3 separate regions of the Homo sapiens genome follow, and all the other regions are linked to region 1. The links come from fine-mapping of genetic effects on gene expression. A gene starts in region 1. Each other region holds a variant in brackets. All regions are shown on one strand. Distances are from middle to middle. Region 1 holds the start of RRAGD (Ras related GTP binding D). Region 2 overlaps ANKRD6 (ankyrin repeat domain 6). Region 3 overlaps RRAGD (Ras related GTP binding D).

Evidence for each region. PIP is the estimated chance that this variant, and not a neighbour inherited with it, causes the effect. A credible set is the group of variants that fine-mapping cannot tell apart.
Region 2: its variant is the best candidate, but not a certain one, in a credible set for the expression of RRAGD in whole blood (TOPMed, PIP 0.76).
Region 3: its variant is the best candidate, but not a certain one, in a credible set for the expression of RRAGD in monocytes (CEDAR, PIP 0.76).

Annotation. Positions count from the first base shown.
Region 1 is chr6:89,409,694-89,417,009 of GRCh38, reverse strand. RRAGD (Ras related GTP binding D) reads left to right here and starts at 4,737. Exons shown (of 7, transcript NM_021244.5): 1 at 4,737-5,164. The coding sequence starts at 5,017. RefSeq lists silencers at 4,321-5,510, 5,541-5,650, 5,681-5,780.
Region 2 is chr6:89,511,928-89,519,329 of GRCh38, reverse strand. The region is part of intron 1 of ANKRD6 (ankyrin repeat domain 6); the gene reads right to left. LOC105377889 (a long non-coding RNA gene) reads left to right here and starts at 7,149. Exons shown (of 3, transcript XR_001744257.2): 1 at 7,149-7,223. The variant A/C (reference allele first, on the strand shown) is at 3,274.
Region 3 is chr6:89,380,176-89,385,175 of GRCh38, reverse strand. RRAGD (Ras related GTP binding D) reads left to right here. Exons shown (of 7, transcript NM_021244.5): 3 at 4,809-5,000. Among named protein-coding and RNA genes, the nearest start is that of RRAGD, 30 kb to the left of the region's middle. The variant A/G (reference allele first, on the strand shown) is at 2,093.

The DNA.
Region 1 (7,316 bases):
AATCCCAGGAACCAGGCACAATGCCATGAGATGCCTCAAAATACCCTAAGATGCAGGATGCAGGCTGTATTTAATTGCTTGCCCTATTCAGGACTGCAATTACTCTGCCTACATTGTACAGGTTTCTTTTAAATAGCTCTCATATTCCTTGTCATCACAAGACATCTAATTGGTAACAGCAAAATAATTCACTGAAATCAGGAAACAAACTTCTTCCCTTTAAAATTCAAATTTTCAAGCCAAAGTACACTTGGATTTTATACTTAGGCTTAGCATACAGTATAGAAATAATATAAACCAGAAAGGGTACTAAATTACTTGCCATTTGTCTTCCTAGTAAAAGGAATGACAATCCACAGTTGTATTATAACAAGAAGTTTTCTTTCTTTTGTTGGTTAGGAAGCTTTTCAGTTTTTTGTTTGTTTGTTTGTTTTGTTTTTTGTTTTCCCTTTTCTCTTAGTGAATCCTGCAAATTAAATCCGGCTGAGACAACAGATCCATTTTTTGAGTGTCTATATGAGCTTTGCTTCTTTACTTAGGAGATTGGGAGCAGCTAATCACTTCCCTTCTACCGTTTTCAGTTCAATGGCTTTAATGTAGAGTTTAGCCTTAGGCCATTAAATGGGACTAAGGCAGGGGTGTCCAATCTTTTGACTTCCCTGGGCCACACTGGAAGAAGAATTAATTGTCTTGAGCCATATATAAAATATACTAACACTAATGATAGCTGATGAGCTAAAAAAAAAAATTGCAAAAACGTCTCATAATGTTTTAAGAAAATTTATAGATTTGTGTTGGGCTGCATTCAAAGCCATCCTGGGCCATGGGGTGTATAAGTTTGGATTAAGGTTTCATGTCAGGCTGTCTGAGTTCCAAAGTAGTTCCTCCATCCATTCTGTGCAGTACCTTGGGTGACTTGTTTAAATTGAGTTTTCTTATCTATAAAGTAGAGGGGATGATATCACTTTCTTAGAGGGAATATTTTAAAGTTCATATTATCTTGGAACAGTGCCTCCTTATTTGTAGAAAATCTCAGTAAATGTTAGTTGGCTAAATTTTAATGGGTAATAGACAAAGCTCTTCTTTCATGATGCTAAAAATGTCTAAAAATTAAGAGTTTTTTTTTTTTAAGAAGGAAAAGTTAGTTGAAATAAAATAAGCATTTAGTCGTCGTGATATTGTAGTCTCTTCAGATCTCAGGCAGTCTTGGACAGATGAAGGCCTAAGACTTATGCTCTTTTTGCATGTCAGCTCATTCCTAGTTGCTCTCTTGTAGCTAACACTTCATATTTACCCACACTGTGGCATTTCCCAAGGTTTGGAGCAAGTAGAAAACTTGGCTGCTATTTCTTCCTGAAGTTTCTCTCAGAAATAGGCTAGATCTGTGTGAAGAGCCATATACTATCTTCCTCCGTTCTTCCCACCCTTCTTTTCTTCTTCTCTTCCTCCCTCCCTTCCTTCTCTCCTTCTTTTCTTTCTCCCATCTCTCTTTTTTTCCATAAGCATTTATTAAGCACCTGTCAAGTATAAGCCATGGTTACATACTTGCCATGGTTACATACCACAGCAGAAACCATGGGTAGCCCAGAGACCAATCTTCACATTCTTCAGAGCACTCTCCTGGGGAGACATCCCCAGACATAGGCTGAGCTCCAGTGCAGAGCGGCCAAGGCAGCAGCCAATTCACTGAGCAGATCCCACGCTGAGTTTCTTAAAGGCTTTCAGGGTTCTTGTAGTGTTTTTCAGTTTTTATTTAAATTCAGAAAGATTCTACACACATGATTTTTTAAATTCAAGAACTTCTATTTCTAGGATATTTTCAACATATCTCTTCTTTGAAAGCTGACAGTATTCAAATGATGTCAGCAAAAGAAAAAAAGCAATCAAGGCTTTTCCTGTTCTGTTCAACTATACATTTCTGAAATGGTAGTAAATTAGAATATCTTAAATCTGTATATGACTCTTTAGCTTGGGGTAGAATATAATTGAGGATTTGACTTCTACTGATTTTTTTGTGGGATTTTATTTTATTCTTATTCTTAAGAATGGTCCAGGTTGGGTGCGGTGGCTCATGCCTGTAATCCCAGCACTTTGGGAGGCCGAAGTGGGTGGATCACCTGAGGTCAGGAGTTCGAGACCAGCCTGGCCAACATGGTGAAACGCTGTCTCTACTAAAAATACAAAAATTAGCTGGGTGTGGTGGTGCATGCCTGTAGTCCCAGCTACTCAGGGGCTGAGGCAAGAGAATCGCTTGAACCTGGGGGGTAGGGGTTGCAGTGAGCTGAGATCATGTCACTACACTCCATCCTGGGTGATAGAGTGAGACTCCATGTTAAAAGAAAAAAACAAAAGAATGGTCCAATTCTCAAGTATCTTGGAGTGTGCCCCAATCTATTGTTTCCTTCTAAGATCTCTCTTCCTGGGGAAGTTAGAGGATCATCAGACATTTCTGTCCTTTCTAGTCCATAGGCACAGTGGGGCTGTTGGATTATGACCTGCCCTTTCCTGATCCCTTGAGTCCATGGGTCTTACACACTTGGCAACCTGCCCAGGAATGCCCTATACGTCTGAGTCTGGGTTGACCTTGGACAGTCTTCTAGATCTCCTAAATTGTTATTTGCAGTTTGAATCAGACCAGTTCAAAGGCCACTTGAGGATGGTGGGCTAGCTATAGAATAGCTGAAAGTCCTCAGCCACACTCTGGGAGGCCCTCCTCCCTGGGGTTTCCTTTGACGGAAGGGATGAAAATAGGCTAGGAAAATTACTCCTAGGAAATGAGCTTTGTAAGTACCTGAGATTTTTTTTCCGCCTCATTTAATCTTCCTAATAATCCTTAGAAGGAGTGATGTTCTATTGATAAGCAATCGGGTTTAGAAGGGCATAAGTAACTTGCCTCTGATGGGAGTATGTAGTGCCTGCTTGTGTTGGTGATGCTCCTTGCACCTCACCCCACCCAGGGACCCACTCCCTGCCCTCCCTATCCAATCTCTGTCCTGGACTAGGTTCCAGGCTCCCTTGCCTTCTGGCTACCAGATGGGTTTGGCCAATGGGAGACACAGGAGAGTGGAGGGAGGATGGATGGAGAGAAAGAGAGGTCTTTGCTCTCTCCTTGATGTGAGGCCGTTCTGGCAGCAGCAGCTTCCTCATCAGTTACAGCTCCTGTTTTGTGGCCCCTCTCCAGGACTCTAGCTCCCTTCCTCACTCCTGTAAATTTAGGGGTGGTGTTATCTTCCCACTATCGCTAATACCTGCATTGATTCCCTAAACTCTGTCCACACCCCTGTAAATTGTTCCTTCACTTGAAGGCTTCAGTTAAAGTCTTTGCACATACCGTCTGTTTCATCCTGGGAAGAACCTTAACTGATACAGTCATACCAAATTATACTGCCTGCCTCCCTTGGAAAATCTCAGGACCTTTCCCATTAGAAGCAGCCACCTTCTGGAAAGTGTCTGCATCCACCTTCTGCACTCAGAAATACTAAAAAAAATCCAGGACATGAGTCATGATTTGGTAGACTGTGAGCTCCTTCAGGGCAGGAACACTGCCCTGAGCATTCTTGGACCCTCTACTTAGCCCAGCCTCAGGCATATAGGAGGTGGTTAATAAATGTTTCCTATGGAGGTTAGCACCCTTGGGCCCTGAGAGTCTCCTGCCCTAGCTTCCTCCCTCCGCTTCTGCACCGCACCACCGGCTGAGCTGCTGGCACCTGTAGGAGCTGGATCATCATGCTGACCGGCCGGTTTTTTCTTATTGTGCTCCACAGAAGGAAGTTCATCCACGTAATTTTTTGCAGTACCCAGAAAGGGTGGGTACAGTGTGTTCCGTGGTGAAAAGCTTGTGAAGGAGGAATGCAGGTTTTAGAGTCTCACTCCACGTTGCTGCTATTCCTATTTGAGAATTGCCCCCCCACCACCGCCACTCCCCTACTCCCACAAAAGCCTTGAAATATTTTATTCATGTGGGATTACAGTCTATGCAACAATGAGACATGAGGAGGTGGCCATGAATAGCCCCCGAGTGTGTTATACACTGAGACCTTTTCCAAAGGGCTGCAGAGGAATTATTTAGTCTAAGCAGCCACGAGTCATGTGATTTCTTCAGAAACATTTACGTCTGGGTAGGCCTGCTTTTTAAATATTCTTGGTGGGAAGCACTTTGAACCATAAAGGCACACTAAAAGACAATTGCTATGGAGACTGCGCCTCCACTGTGCATTTATCTGAGTTCTCCGCCTGGGGCTCTTGAGCGTCCACAGGGTGTCCTGGGCACGCTGCTCTGGGGTGGGGGATCTGGGCGCCACAGTGTTGGGAGGCCACCCGCTTGGGACCCTAGCTCAGGACTGTAAGCAGGAGGCATCCGCCCACGGTAGACGCTCTGCGGGCGTGTGGGAGTGGGACGGCGGGGGGGACATTGAGGGTGTGCGGCGCCCCCTCCCCTGCCTGTGCGGGGACCACGTGAAGGAGAGGCGCGTGGGGGCCCCTGGCGCGCAGCCGCGGTGGGTGACGGCCGGCGTCCCGGGGGCCCCGTGTACGGGGCGTGTGTCGGTGTGAGTCTGGGAGGGTGCAGGGGCCCCGCGCCTCCCCGGTCTCCTCGTGCGTGTGCGTGTGCGTGTGCATGTGTGTCCTCGGCCCAGCGCCCCGCCGAGTGGTGCCCGCGGCCGGGCGAGCGCGCGCGCGCCCGTGCGGGGTGTGTATGTGAGTATGTGACAGTGTGTGTCAGGTGACTCGGGTCACGCAGTCTCTCTCTCTCTCCCTCCTCCGGGAGGAACTGCCGCGCTCCGGCTGACTCCTCCGCCGGCGGGCGGGGCGGGGGAGGGGGCTTCGGGCGCGCTGGGAACCGCGGGACCCGGACCTGGGCGCCGCCCGCCGGGGGACGCGCGGCCCCCGCTTCCGCCGGGCCCCGCTGAGCTCTAGACAAACCTCCGCTTCAGAAATAGGCTGCGGGCGGCCGGCTAGGAGGCTTGGCCCCCACCCCGGGACCCCCGCCGTCCCCGGGCCGGCCGGCCGGTGGGCACGATGAGCCAGGTGCTGGGGAAGCCGCAGCCGCAGGACGAGGACGACGCGGAGGAGGAGGAGGAGGAGGATGAGCTGGTGGGGCTAGCGGACTACGGAGACGGGCCCGACTCCTCCGACGCCGATCCGGACAGCGGCACAGAGGAGGGAGGTGAGCGCCCGGCCCCCGCGTCCTCGGCTCGCGCCCCTTTCCTCCCCTTGGCGCCTTCCCGCCCCCAGCCCGGCCGTGCGCGAGCCACCGACTTGGAGGGGGTCCAGGGGAGCGGGTCCAGTTGAGGGTTTGGGGTGGGGAGGGACGCCAAAAGCCCGACCTCGAGCTGCCAAATGAGGGAGCGCGGTGCTGGTGGCGGAGGGGCAACCAGGATCGGTGGAAAAGGGGAAGGAGGGAGTAAGCGTCTGGGCTGGAGGAGCGCGCGCTTCTGCCCCTTTCAGAGCCGGTGCCTCCCGCGCCCCTCACCCCAAGCTCTCCGCAGCGTCTGGCGGTTGGGGAGGGGAGGGGACCGCGGGCGCGCCCTGGGACCTCTCTCCCAGAACGGTGCTGTTGAAGCCAGGGTCAGATGTCGTGGCTAAAAAAAGGCAGCCGGCGGCGGCGTGACTGGCAGGGTCGTCGGCAGCTGCGGGTGTCAGTCTCGCCCCGCGTCGCCGCGGGAGGGGCCCACCCAGGTAGTGGCTGGGGAGACCCGCGGGGCGGCGGGGGGATGCTCGCCAAGCTGTTGTGGGAGTCTCCGAGAGGCCGCAGATTTCCCGGGATCCACGCAAACACCGTTGTCAGGACACCTTATCTGCTCTCGGTATCACCACCTGGACATGGCAGTGCCTGCCCGGGAGTGAGCGCGCGGCGGGGAATTCTTTGCTTCAATAGTGAAGCAAACTCTTTTTCCTGTTCTAGAAGCGGGTTTTAGCAATCGTTCAGCTTGTGGGGGCTTCCTGCATTTTCTTAAGGTGTAAGGAAGTTGAGAGCCTTTTAGTATTCCAGAGAGGTTAAACTTTTTTTAGTTTCCCTCAGAAGCGAGCAAAAGTTCCTTTACTGTAAGGTCACTTGGAAAGGTCAATAGAAAGCGGCTGTTAAACATGATGTTATTCTCAGTGAAACTGTATGCATCCAAGAGAAGGAACTAACTTTAATGTTTCACACTGAAGAAATTGTGTGAGAGATACAAGTACCTTTGTGACTATTGATTTTTAAAGAACTTTTATTGAGAATTCACTGAACTTATTTTAAATTCTCTATGCAAAGCTTTTCTCACTAGGGTAGTTTCATTATTCTACATCTGGCAGGCACGACTTTCAATGAATCAGAAAGGAAATAAAGTTAACTATGCCTTGCGCCTGGTAGATGAGAAAGCAGCCTCTCAAGTCACCCTTTTTCATAGCGTTTTCTCTCTTGGGATGATTTGTGCTAATTCCTCATTTGCTTAAACTGATGTGTGCACCTTTGTGCTTTCTGTCTTCTGCACTCCCGGTAATTGGTCTTACCGTTGAGCACCAGGCCACATTTTTGTAGATAAAGGCTTTCAGCCGTTTTATTGGAGTCTCTAGAGCTACCTTCCGTAATTAAATTGTTCAGTCGCCTCATTATTATTCAAATTCCATTTGTTAGCTCCTCCCAGATTCTTAGAAGACTCCGGAGAGATGCAGAATAGGGATGTATTTGCAAGGTATTTGAAATGGTGGACACAGTAGGGTGTGTGTGGGATTCTCTTTTTTAAAAAAGAAAAAAAGTGGGGGGGCGGAGGGGCCATATCCAGGAGGGAAAGCCCTGTAATTTGATACTGTCCTGAGGCCTGGAGGGTCCAGAAAAAGTACTGGACCCCTCGTTTATTCTGCAGTTCTTTAAGTGGGCACTTTTAAAATTTGATTTGGGGACTTGAAATTGAAGTGAAATTAAAGCCCTGCTTGAGGGATGGGATTCCCGGAACAAAGGGCTTCCCCAGAGCCCAGACTTGGAGGCTCCTTAGCTGTTAACGTAAAGGCAAACTTGCCTGTAACTGATTTTTGGTGACTCGCATAATAAAATCCTTCTGAATGGGCTTTTGGGATCAGCTTGGGATCTTGCTATAAAAGGATTAAATATATTTATATTGTGAGAAGAGCAACATGTTTGCTCGGCAAACGTTGCTTAAGCCTGGTCTCTGTCCACCTGGGCCTGCAGTGGATAGGTGGTCTGCTTCTCAGACTTCCTCCGTTATATTTTGGCCTCTGTTCTTTCCAGATTTCCCTGGCTTTGACTTTTGGGTTTAGGCCTTGATGCAGAATCCCTTGTCAGGACATTTGCTCTCTAGTGTCAGATAGGCTCCTCAGTC
Region 2 (7,402 bases), 100 kb before region 1:
GGCTTCTGCAGTAGATTCCCAACTAACCATCCTGAATCAACTTTGGCTTCTTCTGATCTTTTCTCTGCAGTATGACCAGGATGATATTCTCAATCTGTAAATTACAGCCAGTATCTCCCTTGCTTAAAAATCTTTAATAGCTTCTGTTAATAGACTGAATTGTGTCTCCCTCCAAAATTCATACGCTGAAGCCCAAACCCCCAGTACCTAGAATGTGACTATCCTTGGAGAGAGGGTCTTTAAAGAGGTAACTAAGGTTAAATGAGGTCATAAAGGTGAGGCTCTAATCCAGCAGGACTGGTATCCTTAGAAGAGACATCAGAGATGTAAGTGCACAGAGATAAAGCCACATGAGAACACAGGAAGAAGGTGGCCATCTGCAAGCTGAGGGGAAAGGCCTCAGAAGAAACCAAACCAGCAGACACACTGATCTTGGAATTTTAGCCTCTGGGAGTGTGAGACAACACATTTCTGTTTGTCATTTAAGCCATCCAGTCTGTGGCATTTTGTAATGGCAGCCCTAGCAAACCAATATAGATCTCCATAGCTCTAGGATAAAGATCAGTGCCCCTGGCTTGACTGAAAAGATTCTGCATGGAGCCACCTCTCTCAACACATCTCTTAACTTTCTGAGCATTGGTCCCATTTGGCCTTTGTTCAATTCCTCATCAGTGTTATGCTTTTTTTTTTGCATCATATGACTCTGTGTGAGCTGATCTGTCTGCCTGAAATACTTAATCCCTCCCCACTGCTCCTGCCAGTCAAAGCCTACTCATCAGTTCATCATTTCTTCCTCAGGGAAGCTTTCCTAATCCCCCAGCTTAGGTCAAGCTCTGTTGTTCCATGTTCCCATGGACTCGTGTTCATTCCTTTCATTCAGATCACTTACCTGTGTTTGTCATAAGATACTTATTTTTTTTTTTTTTTGAGACGGAGTCTTACTCTTGTTGCCCAGGGTGGAGTGCAATGGCGCGATCTCGGCTCACCGCCACCTCTAACTCCCAGGCTCAAGCCATTCTCCTGCCTCAGCCTCCGCAGCAGCTGGGATTACAGGCATGCGCCACCACGCCCAGCTAATTTTGTATTTTTAGTAGAGGCGGGGTTTCTCCATGTTGGTCAGGCTGGTCACGAACTCTGGACCTCAGGTGATCCACCCGCCTCGGCCTCCCAAAGTGCTAGGATCACAGGCGTGAGCCACCACGCCCGGCCATAAGATACTTATTTTTATGATTATTTGGTTGTCTGTTTCCCACTAGACACCATGAAAACAGGAACCATGTCAGTTTTTGCTGTTTAGAGTATCTTCAGTACCTGGCATAGCACCTGCTACAAGGTAAGGGAGTAATAACTATTGAATGAATCCATGAATACATAAAGACATTGACTTTGCTCTCAAGGGCTTGCAGAGAAGTGTATATCCAAAAAAGTCAAGCAACTGCCACAGGGGCTATGACTGGTAAGATCCCATGACCTGCTGATGTGACAGTGGCTACTCCCATCCCATTACATATCATAGTCCCCCCCTTAGGAAAACAAGAGCTGGGTTTCTGTGCATCTACTCTGTTTAGCAATTAACTGTCATAAGGACAAGACAGTTTTCTCTTTTAAAAAGTATCCCCACTGACGGGTTACAGGTGGTCAGAATAAACATAACTATCAAGTTTTTCCTATAAATTATAATAATGATCATGTTGATTAAACAATCTATGTGGACTATAGGTCCAAATTTTTTCATATATAATGGTTCCATTACATTTTTTCCCCACTCTTATGTTTTTAACAAGTATCTCAACAACTTCTTTCGACATTATACTACAACAAGGAAAACTAATAATGGGCACAACTTTCAACCTACCAGAAAAACATCAAATGAGTTTCTTGAGTCTATTATTCCAATAAAAGAGGCCAAAGTTTATTCTATTATGTGCCTTTTCACAATGTATTAAAAATTACACACTATCCCTCTATAAAGAAAGAACTGCATTCCACCAATTTATTCTGAAATAGCAATTAAAATCTAGAAACAATGCAATAAAATTATTAAACTACTATTAATTTTTAAATGTTACAGATAAATTAATTTATGTCAGACCAACTGTATAGGTTTCCTGTGGCTGCTGTAACAAATTACACAAACATGGTGGCTTAAAACAGCAATCTGGCCAGGCGTGGTGGCTTACGCCTGTAACACAAGCACTTTGAGAGGTCAAGGCAGGAGGGTAACTTGAGCCCAGGAATTCGAGACCAGCATGGGCAACATAGTGAGACCCCATCTATACTAAAAATCAGAAAAATCATCTCGTTTTGGTGGTATGCACCTATAGTCTCAGCTACTCAGGAGGCTAAGTGGGGAAGATCACTTGAGCCAGGGATATCAAAGCTGCAGTAAGCTATGATTGTGCCACTGCACTCCAGTCTGGGCAACACAGTAAAGCTCTGTCTCCAAAAAACAAACCAAAAACAAATTTATTCTCACTGTTATTGGGGTCCTCCAGAGAAACAGAACAAATAGGAGATATACAGATAGATATGGATATTGAAAATCTAGAATGAGGCCAGGCACAGTGGCTCACACCTGTAATCCCAGCATTTTGGGAGGCCAAGATGGGTTGATCACTTGAGGCCAGGAGTTTGAGACCAGCCTGGCCAACACGGCAAAACCCCGTCTCTACTAAAAATACAAATATTAGCTGGGAGTGGTGGCACGTGCCTGTAAACCCAGATACTTGCAGGAGGTTGAAGCAGGAGAATCGCTTGAACCCAGGAGGTGGAGGTTGCAGTGAGCTGAGATCACACCACTGCACTCCAGCCTGGGCAACAGAGGCTGTGTCTTAAAAAAAATCTAGAATGGAATTGGCTCCCACAATTTTGGAAGCTAAGTCACACAATCTGACCCCTGTAAGCTGGAAACCCAGGAAAACCAGTGGTGTAAATTTGAGTCTCAGTCTAAAAGCCTGAGAACCAGGATCCCTGATGGTTGTAAGTCTTAGTTGAAGGGCAGAAGATTGATGTCTCAGCTCATGGACTCAGGCAGGGAGAAGTCAACCTTCTTCTGCCTTTTTGTTCCATCAGGACTGGCCCTGAGGGGTTGAATGATCCCCATCCACACTGGGGAGGGCCATCTGCTCTACTCAGTCTATCCAGTCACAGGCTCATCTCTTCCAGAAACACCCTCACAGACACACCCAGGAATAATGTTTAACCAGGTATCTGGGTATCCCATGGCCCAGTCAAACTGACACACAAAATTAACCATCACACTCACAGTTTTGG[A/C]GGCCAAAAGTCTGAAGTCCAGTTGTTGGCAGTGCTGTACTCCCTTCAGAGGCTCTAGGGGAAAATTGTTCCTTGTCCCTTTTAGCTTCTTGTGGCTGCAGATGGTCCTTGGTTCAGGCCACAACACTCTAATCTCTGCCTTGGTTTTCACTTCACCTTCTCTTCGTGCGTCTCTGTCTAATTTCCCTCTGTCTTTCTTATAAGGATATATGTGATTGCACTTAGGGTCCACCCAGATAATCCAGGAGAGGCACCTTCTCTCCAGATCCTACCCTAGTAATCCAGGAGAGGCACCTTCTCTCAAGATCCTATCCAGATAATCCAGGAGAAGCACCTTCTCCCAAGATCCTACCCAGATAATCCAGGAGAAGCACCTTCTCTCAAGATCCTGTCCATATAATCCAGGAGAGGCACCTTCTCTCAAGATCCTTAATAACATTTTGGGGGGCCACATAAGGTAATATCACTCATTTATCATTTAAGGTAATATGCACAGGTTCTGAAGGTTAGGAAATGAGTATGTCTTTGGCAGGGCAGACATTTTACCTGCCGACCATACCAATCCTACCACCAGTAACAACCAGAAAAGCTCAACAAAACATTGAACAAACAAAAAAATCTGTGTGAAGACCAAAGACCCAAGTCCTTGCAAGAACCTAAGTATTCAAGATCATGAAGGAAAGGGTGGTGCAAAGAGGTAAGCCAAATGTTTGAGGACATGTTTTCCTTTGTGGCATTTGCTGATTTGCAAGCAGCTGTGAAGTTTAGGGAACACAAAGGTAGAAAAACTGAGTAAATAAACACTCCAGACTTCAGTTGGACACCCTGAAAAGGGCTAATCATCCTAGAAATAAGGACATACTGGAAAGACACTAGCTTCATAAAGACTGATGCCCAGCTCAGAATCAATTCAAATGAAAGAAAAACCACAGTGACAGGAGATTTATAGTTCATGTATCCAATTAAGGTCTGATGTCCAGAAGACATAAAGAATGTCTTCAAAATCAATAAGAAAAAGATAATCTAATAGGAAAATGCTCCAGAGTTTGAAAAGGTAATTTCACCAAACAGGTTATCCAGACAGCCAATAAGCATATGGAAAGGTGCTCAACTTCAAAAGTCATCAAGGAAATAGGAAGTAAAACTACTACGCCCAGACAAGAAGGACTAAAATTTTAAAAGACTGGAAACACCATGGTTGACACAGATCTGGAGCAATGCTAACTCTTTTAACACCTGTGCCTGAGGATGTAAACTGGTATAACTGCTTTAGAAAACTGTTTGGTAGTGCCAAACATCTATATATCCCATGCCCAAACAATTCCAATTCTAGGTATATAATCAACAGAAATACAAACATGTACACCAAAGGACATATGGGGAATGTTCACTGCAGCATTACTCATAATAAACTATAAATTATTGGTAATCCATCTAATCATAGAAATGAAGTGAACTATTTCCACAAAATATATTATGACAGTCTTTTGAGGATATCTTATGCCCAACATTTTAATTCCATTTACGGCAGGGGTGTCCAATCTTTTGGCTTCACTGGGCCACATTGGAAAAAGTAGAATTGTCTTGGGCCACATATAAAATACACTAACACTAACAATAGCTGATGAGCTTAAAACAAAACAAAACAAAACAAAAACTCCAAAAAAATTTTTTTTTTTGAGATGGAGTCTTGCTCTGTAACCCAAACTGGAGTGCAGTGGCACAATCTCAGCTCACTGCAACCTCCGCCCCCCAGGTTCAAGCGATTCTCCTGCCTCAGCCTCCCAAGTAGCTCGGATTACGGGTACATGCCACAATGCCCGGCTAATTTTTTGTATTTTTAGTACAGATGGGTTTCACCATGTTGGCCAGGGTAGTTTTTAACTCCCGACTTCATGTGATCTGCCCACCTCGGCTTCCCAAAGTGCAGGGATTACAGGCATGATCTACCGCACCCGGCCCTTCATAATGTTTTAAGAAAGCTTACGACTTTGTGTTGGGCCACATGAAAAGCCATCCTGGGCCATATGGCAGCCCACTGGCCACGGGTGAGACAAGCTTGATGTAAGGTTTAGCTACTTAAGTCATTGGAATGTGACAGTCTGATAATTCTTGTTTTCATAAATTGGAACATTAAATTTTCCCACATTATACATTAAAAAATTTATCTATAGAAATAGTGAACGCATTCTGAATTGCTTTGCCATGCCATAAATAGGGAGAGATTGCCTTGTTCTTCACTTTGCTCTCTCTTTGTGTGTCTCTGTGAAGCTCACTGCCACCTAAGACTAACATTAATGCCTTTCTGTTCCAGAATGTAGTTAACCAAAATATTTAGGTTATGTTCTTAAGTAGTTTATTGTTTGGTAATTTAACAGCAAAGTTGAAAATGAAATTTAAAATACAGATAATTTTTTAAAACTGTAAAACAACCAAAATGTACATAAATAGCAGAAGGGATAAACTGTGATATATGTTCATACTACATAAGAATGTAAATCAATAAACTATTACTATTTATAACCATGTGGATAAATCTTGCAAATATCCTGCTAAGCAAAAGAGGTCAGATACAAAAAGGATATGCCATATGATTCTCCTTATATAGAATTCAGAACAGGCAAAAGTCATCGATTGCATTATAAGTCAAGAGAGTGATTTGGAGGGGAAAGCAGGTTAAGGATTGGGAGGGGGGATACTGGAAATTTGGCAGTATTCAATTTCCTGATTTGGGTGGTAGTTACGTGATGGCATTCCCTTTGTGAAAATTCATCAATCTGTATTTTTACGGTTTGTGCACTTTTCATTTGGTATATATTTTAATTGAAAGTTAAAAGAAAAAACAGCCATGACAGCCATGCACAGTGGTTCATGCCTGTAATCCCAGCTACTCAGGAAACTGAGGAGTTTGAGACCAGCCTGGGCAACATAGTGAGTCTCTGTCTCTAAAAATACTTTTTCAAATTTAGCCAGGCATGGTTGCACATGCCTATAGTCCCAGCTACTCAGGAAGCGGAGGCAGGAGGATCCCTTGAGCCCAGGAATTCAAGGCTGCAGTGAGCAATGATCCCACCGCTGCACTCCAGCCTGGGCAACAGAGCAAGACATTATCTCTTAAAAAAAAGAGAGAAAAAGAAAGAAAAAAAGGAAAAAGAAATAGAAAAGAAAAAAACAGCTATGAACTATGAGCTTCCAGATCTGAATTTTCTGAGTGGAAACCATTCACTCTTCTAAGACAGACAACAAAGATTATTACTTCTTCTAGATTAGCTATGAAATCTATCCCAATCAGTATCTGATTAAAATTGATATTTATGTGCAACATGCTGCACAGCCATTTGCTAAGCTTATTGGCATTTCTGACACTTCCAGGGAATCCAATTCCATGCTTCACTAATACTGGTAAAGCACTGAAAATATCTCCTCCAGCCAAAGTCCAGGTTTACCCCAACAGACAAACACAGATGCTGCTCCTTGTGCCCACCCTGGCCACAGCCCCACACTCCAGGCTGCACAGCTGGCTGCCAGTGACAGTATGGGATCCCCAAAACCCATGACTGCACTCCGCCCCCTAACTTAGAAACAGACACTCATTGTTCTGAGACCAAAACCAAGAGGTGGCTTAGATTTGCCCCATGGTAGTTCATGTGGGAGTGGAGAGAATAGAGTGCAATGACAAATCTGTATGACACTTAACACTGCAAACTTTCCTTTGTTCATCAGGAGACCCAACCTCTCTACTGGATGTTTTACAAATATAGCATTGACTGGCGTTTAAGACTGTTGCTGTAAGTTTATGTTGGGAGTAACAACGATCAAAGCAGAAGATAATTTTTACTTTTCTATACCATCTATGCATGGAAGTCTATCTACATGGCCCATACAGGCTTATCATATGACCTTGTAACTGCTTTCATGTTGACTTCTCCAGGACTCAAAGAACAGTCAAGGTAACCCCACAATCAGGAGCATACCTAAGACCAAACTGTCAGGCTTAGGCCTGTAATCCCAGCACTTTGAGAGGCCGGGGTGGGAGGATCACCTAAGCCCAGGAGTTCGAGACCAGCCTGGGCAACAGAGTGAGACCTTGTCTCTACAAAAAAAAAATTTTTTTAATGTTTTTAAAAAT
Region 3 (5,000 bases), 31 kb after region 1:
TGGCGAAAATAGGTACATCTGCCTATTTTTAAATTGAAGGCAGACCTTCAATTTAGGTTGGTAAATGTGTTTTTTATTTTAATTTTGTTTCTTGAAGTTTTTTTTCTTCCTCAGACGAGGTCTCACTATGTTGCCCAGGCTGGAGTGCAGTGGCTATTCACAAGTGTGATTATAACCCGCTACAGCCTCAAAGTCCTGGGCTCAAGTGATCCTACTGTTTCAACCTCCCAGGTAGCTGGGACTACAGATGCATGCTACTATCCTTGGCTCTTCTCTTGGGTGTTTTTTGTGGGGCAGAGAAAGATATAGGAATGTTTGAGAAGTTCATTTTTTAAAGGTATACTTTTTTTTTTTTTTTTTTTGAGACGGAGTCTTGCTCTGTCGCCTAAGCTGGAGTCCAGTGGCGCCATCTTGGCTCACTGCAAGTCCACCTCCTGGGTTCACGCCATTTTCCTGCCTCAGCCTCCCGAGTAGCTGGGACTGCAGGCGCCCGCCACCACACCCGGCTAATTTTTTGATTTTTAGTAGAGATGGGGTTTCACCATGTTAGCCAGGATGGTCTCGATCTCTTGACCTCATGATCCATCCATCTCAGCCTCCCAAAGTGCTGGGATTACAGGCGTGAGCCACCACGCCTGGCCTAAAGTTATACTTTTTAAAAAGAGAAGGCTGGGCACAGTGGCTCATGTCTATAATCCAAACACTTTGGGAGGCCAAGGCTGGAGGACCACTTAGGCCCAGGAGTTTGAGGCTGCAGTAAGCTATGATTGTGCCATTGCACTCTAACCTGGGTGACAGAGCAAGACCTTATCTCGAAAAGAGAAAAAAACCACACATAAAAATAAACAGTAGGAAAAGCATTGTTGAATGCTGTAATTTATTTAAAATAAGGAATAATTAAATAAGCAGTTTCAAAACCTAATATACTTTTCTGTTGGAAGCAGAATGTAAAAATCATGTTTGCAGGAACCTTTATGGGATGTGATTAGAAGCACTGACAGGAAAATCAAAACTTTAGGGAAGTGTCTCCACAGCACTTGAGTGTCCTTTCCTTTCTTTCTTTTTTTTTTTTTTTAGATGGAGTCTCACTCTGTCACCAGGCTGGAGTGCAGTGGTGCGATCTTGGCTCACTGCAATCCCCGCCAACTGGGTTCAAGTGATTCTCCTCCCTCAGCCTCCTGAGTAGCCACCACACCCAGCTAAGTTTTATATTTTTAGTAGAGACAGGATTTCACAATGTTGGCCAGGATGGTCTCGATCTCTTGACCTCGTGATCCACCCGCCTCGGCCTCCCAAAGTGCTGAGATTACAGTCATGAGCCACTACGCCTGGCCCCTTTCCTTTATTTCTAAGCAATACTATTTTGTTCTCACTCCTCATATTTTTATTTTTTGTTCATGAATTCCTTACAGTCACAGGATTGCCGGATAAATATATCCCCCAGGAGTAAATGTGTCCTCACAGAATGTCATAAAATAAAAAAGAATGAAAGCAAGAGTGGTTCCCATGATCTGTGGTGACACCCCAGCCCCGCTCCCCAGCCTACAGAATGCACCATATCTCCTGAAGCCATTGCACATGTGCTATGGATCCAAAAGAGAGTTTCTTCTTGACCTGTGCTGGTGCTTGTGACCTGCCCATAATCCCCAGATCTAATTTCAGAGTAGAAACTATGCAGTGTATTTTACCTTAATTTTTATTTGTCAAAGAAAGTAATAAACGATGGGAAAAATCACCTGCAATCCCTCTGTTCTAACCAACCAAGTATTTTCTTTTTTTTAGTCCTTGTAGCTGCATGCTGCTTTTTCAGTTAGTTGGTAATCAGACCATTTTATATGCTTGGCAGGGAGGTTAGAGTAGCAATTTCCAATCTTTGGAGATGTGATGCTCTCTTGACATTGGGTAGTTTTGCTCACAGACATGTTCCCTTAACTCCCCTCCTCAGTTAAAGACAGCAATAACACTTTTCTTGAGGTGTAATTTACATGCAATAAAATGCATTCATTTTAAGTGTACAGTTCAACAGGTTTGACCAATGTGTACACCATGTAACCACCCCTCCTTCAAGATATAGAATATTTCCACCACCCCA[A/G]AGGTTCCCTTGTGCCCTTTCTCAGGTGATCCCCTGAAACACTCAGCCCCAGGCAACCACTGCAGTGCTGTCACTTTAGTTTGCCTTTTCTAGAATTTCATCTATGTGGAACCATACAGTAATACCTTTAGTTTTTAATGCTTAATCTGCTGACCCAGAATCCGACATTTGCCTTTCATTTAATTTAATTTTTTTTTTTATTTTTTTTGAGATGGAGTCTTGCTCTGTTGCCCAGGCTGGAGTGCAGTGGCACGATCTTGGCTCACTGCAACCTCCGCCTCCCAGGTTTAAGCAATTCTCCTGCCTCAGCCTCCTGAGTAGCTGGGATTACAGGCATGCGCCACCCTGCCCAGCTAATTTTTGTATTTTTTTAGTAGAGACGGGGTTTCACCATGTTGGTCAGGCTGGTCTCGAACTCCTGACCTCGTGATCTGCCCGCCTTGGCCTCCCAAAGGGCTGGGATTACAGGCGTGAGCCACCGCGCCCGGCCTCATTTTATTTAATTTTTACAGGCAGGCTCTCACTCTGTTACCTAGGTTGGAGTGCAGTGGCAAGATCATAGCTCATTGTAACCTCAAATTCCTGAGTTCAAGGAATTCTCCTGCCTCAGCCTCCGAGTAGCTGGGACTACAGGTGTGCACCACCAAGTCTGGTTAATTACATATATATATATATATATATATTTCTAGAGATAGGGGTCTCACTGTGTTGTTCAGGCCGGTCTTGAACTCAAGCAGTCCTCTCCAGTAGGTGGGATTACAGGCACAAGCCACTGCTCCTGGCTTTTGTCCTTTATTCTAAACAACTCTGTAGAGTGTGAAGGATGGGAAGGACTCCATTTGCGGTTTTTCCCTCTTCATAGTTTCCTATTTGTATAATTAATATTTGATTTGCCTAGAGACTAGGGATACATTTTTACTGATGTTTGGAGCATAGAAGAATGCCAGAAAACACCCCCAATTATATTGGCTTTCTGTTTTTTCCAGGTTTGGAGGCACAAGTGGCGGGGCAGAGGGGGAAGGCATTTAGATTCTGTCCTACAGGTCTCTTTCCTTTTTTTTTTTTTGCCATAAAAACAAGACCTGTTCACACCCTTCAAATTGGCAATAAGAGATCTGACACCACCAATTGTTGGTGAGGGTCTGAAGCATCAGATGCTGTTTACAGACTTCCAGGTACAGTCAAGGCACTCCTACCTATGACCTGACAAGTCACCCTTCAGAGTAAGCCACATGTACATGAGACTGTACATATATCATTGTAATCACATATACATGGGAATAATGTCCATCAGCAGGCAAATATAAATTATAGATCATCCATAAAAGGAAGTTTTATAGAGCCATTAAAAGGAACTAATGCACTGTAGTTATGTACTACAGATAACATTCAGCATAGGTGAATCTCACTGACATAGTGTTGAATGAAAAAGGCAAACTATAATATACACACAACTTAATATTTCTTTCCATTTTTAAACAATGTAAATGAATTATATGTGATGTTTGGGGATATATATGTCTGTATTAATGTATACATGAGTGAGAATAAATACTAAACTTGGGATAGTGGTTGTCTCTAGAGGATGAGGGGGTAGAGGGATAGCATGGGTTGGGAGGATGAGGAGAAACACAGAGGGCTTTTGTGTAGGTGTTTTATTTCCTAAATAGAGATAAATACACAGGTGTTCATTATATAGGCATGGGAAGAAGAAAAAAGTTAGTATTGTTTGGGGCAATTCCTCTAGACCAGGGGACTTTTTCTGTAAAGGGGCAGATGGCAAACATCTTAAGCTTTGTAGACTGTACTGTCTCTGAGGAGTTTCTCTAGAGGAAACTTACTCAACTCTGCCATTGTAGCACAAAAGCAGCCTTAGACAATATGAAAGCAAATGAGCATGTTCCAATACAACTTACTTTTAAGAAACAGGCACAGGGCCTGCAGACGGTGGTCTGCTGACTTCTGCACTGAACCAGTGGTTCTTAAAATTGCTCCTCAGCTCCTTCCCCACCCGCCCAGTGGCCTGTATCATGCCTCCATCTCTAATTGTTCATCACAGTTCACAAGAGACTGGAAAAGTTAGGAGGAACAGTATTCTGGGGAAGGTCTTATGTGGAGTAGGGTCCGTTTCTCTTCCTGAAACCGCAACTCTGATCTTTTTTTTTTTTTTTCTTTTTGTGACCGAGTCTTACTCTGTCATCCAGGCTGGAGTACAGTGGTGTGATCTCAGCTCACTGCAATCTCTGCCTCCTGGGTTCAAGCAATTCTCCTGCCTCAGCCTCCCGAGTAGCTGGGACTACAGGCGCATGCCACCACGCCTGGCTAATTTTTTGTATTTTTAGTAGAGAAGGGGTTTCACCGTGTTAGCCAGGATGGTCTCAATCTCCTGACCTCATGATCCACCTGCCTGGGCCTCCCAAAGTTCTGGGATTACAGGCTTGAGCCACCACGCCCAGCCAACTCTGATCTTTATGACTGTCATCAACCTCAGTCATAACTGCCTAAATCAGCTGCATTTTTTTAGCCTTTCTTCTTCCTCTCTTTGTTAACAGAACTTAAATTTTCACACTGGAATTATAAGAAGCCAGCTTGTTGAGGGGAACCTTTGCAACGTATTTCGGGGGGTTGCAGCCACATGGTTTCCAGGTGAAGAGTGTGTGTGGGAGGCTCAGGAAGCAAAGCGGCCTTCTCTCACAGGCGTTGCCTTTGGTCCTAGGATGATTACATGGAAGCCCTGGCCAGGCTCCACCTCACGGTGACCAGGGCCTACAAAGTGAATACTGACATCAACTTCGAGGTGTTTATTCATAAAGTGGATGGTCTGTCAGATGACCACAAAATTGAAACCCAAAGAGATATTCACCAGAGGGCAAACGATGACCTTGCAGATGCTGGATTAGAAAAAATT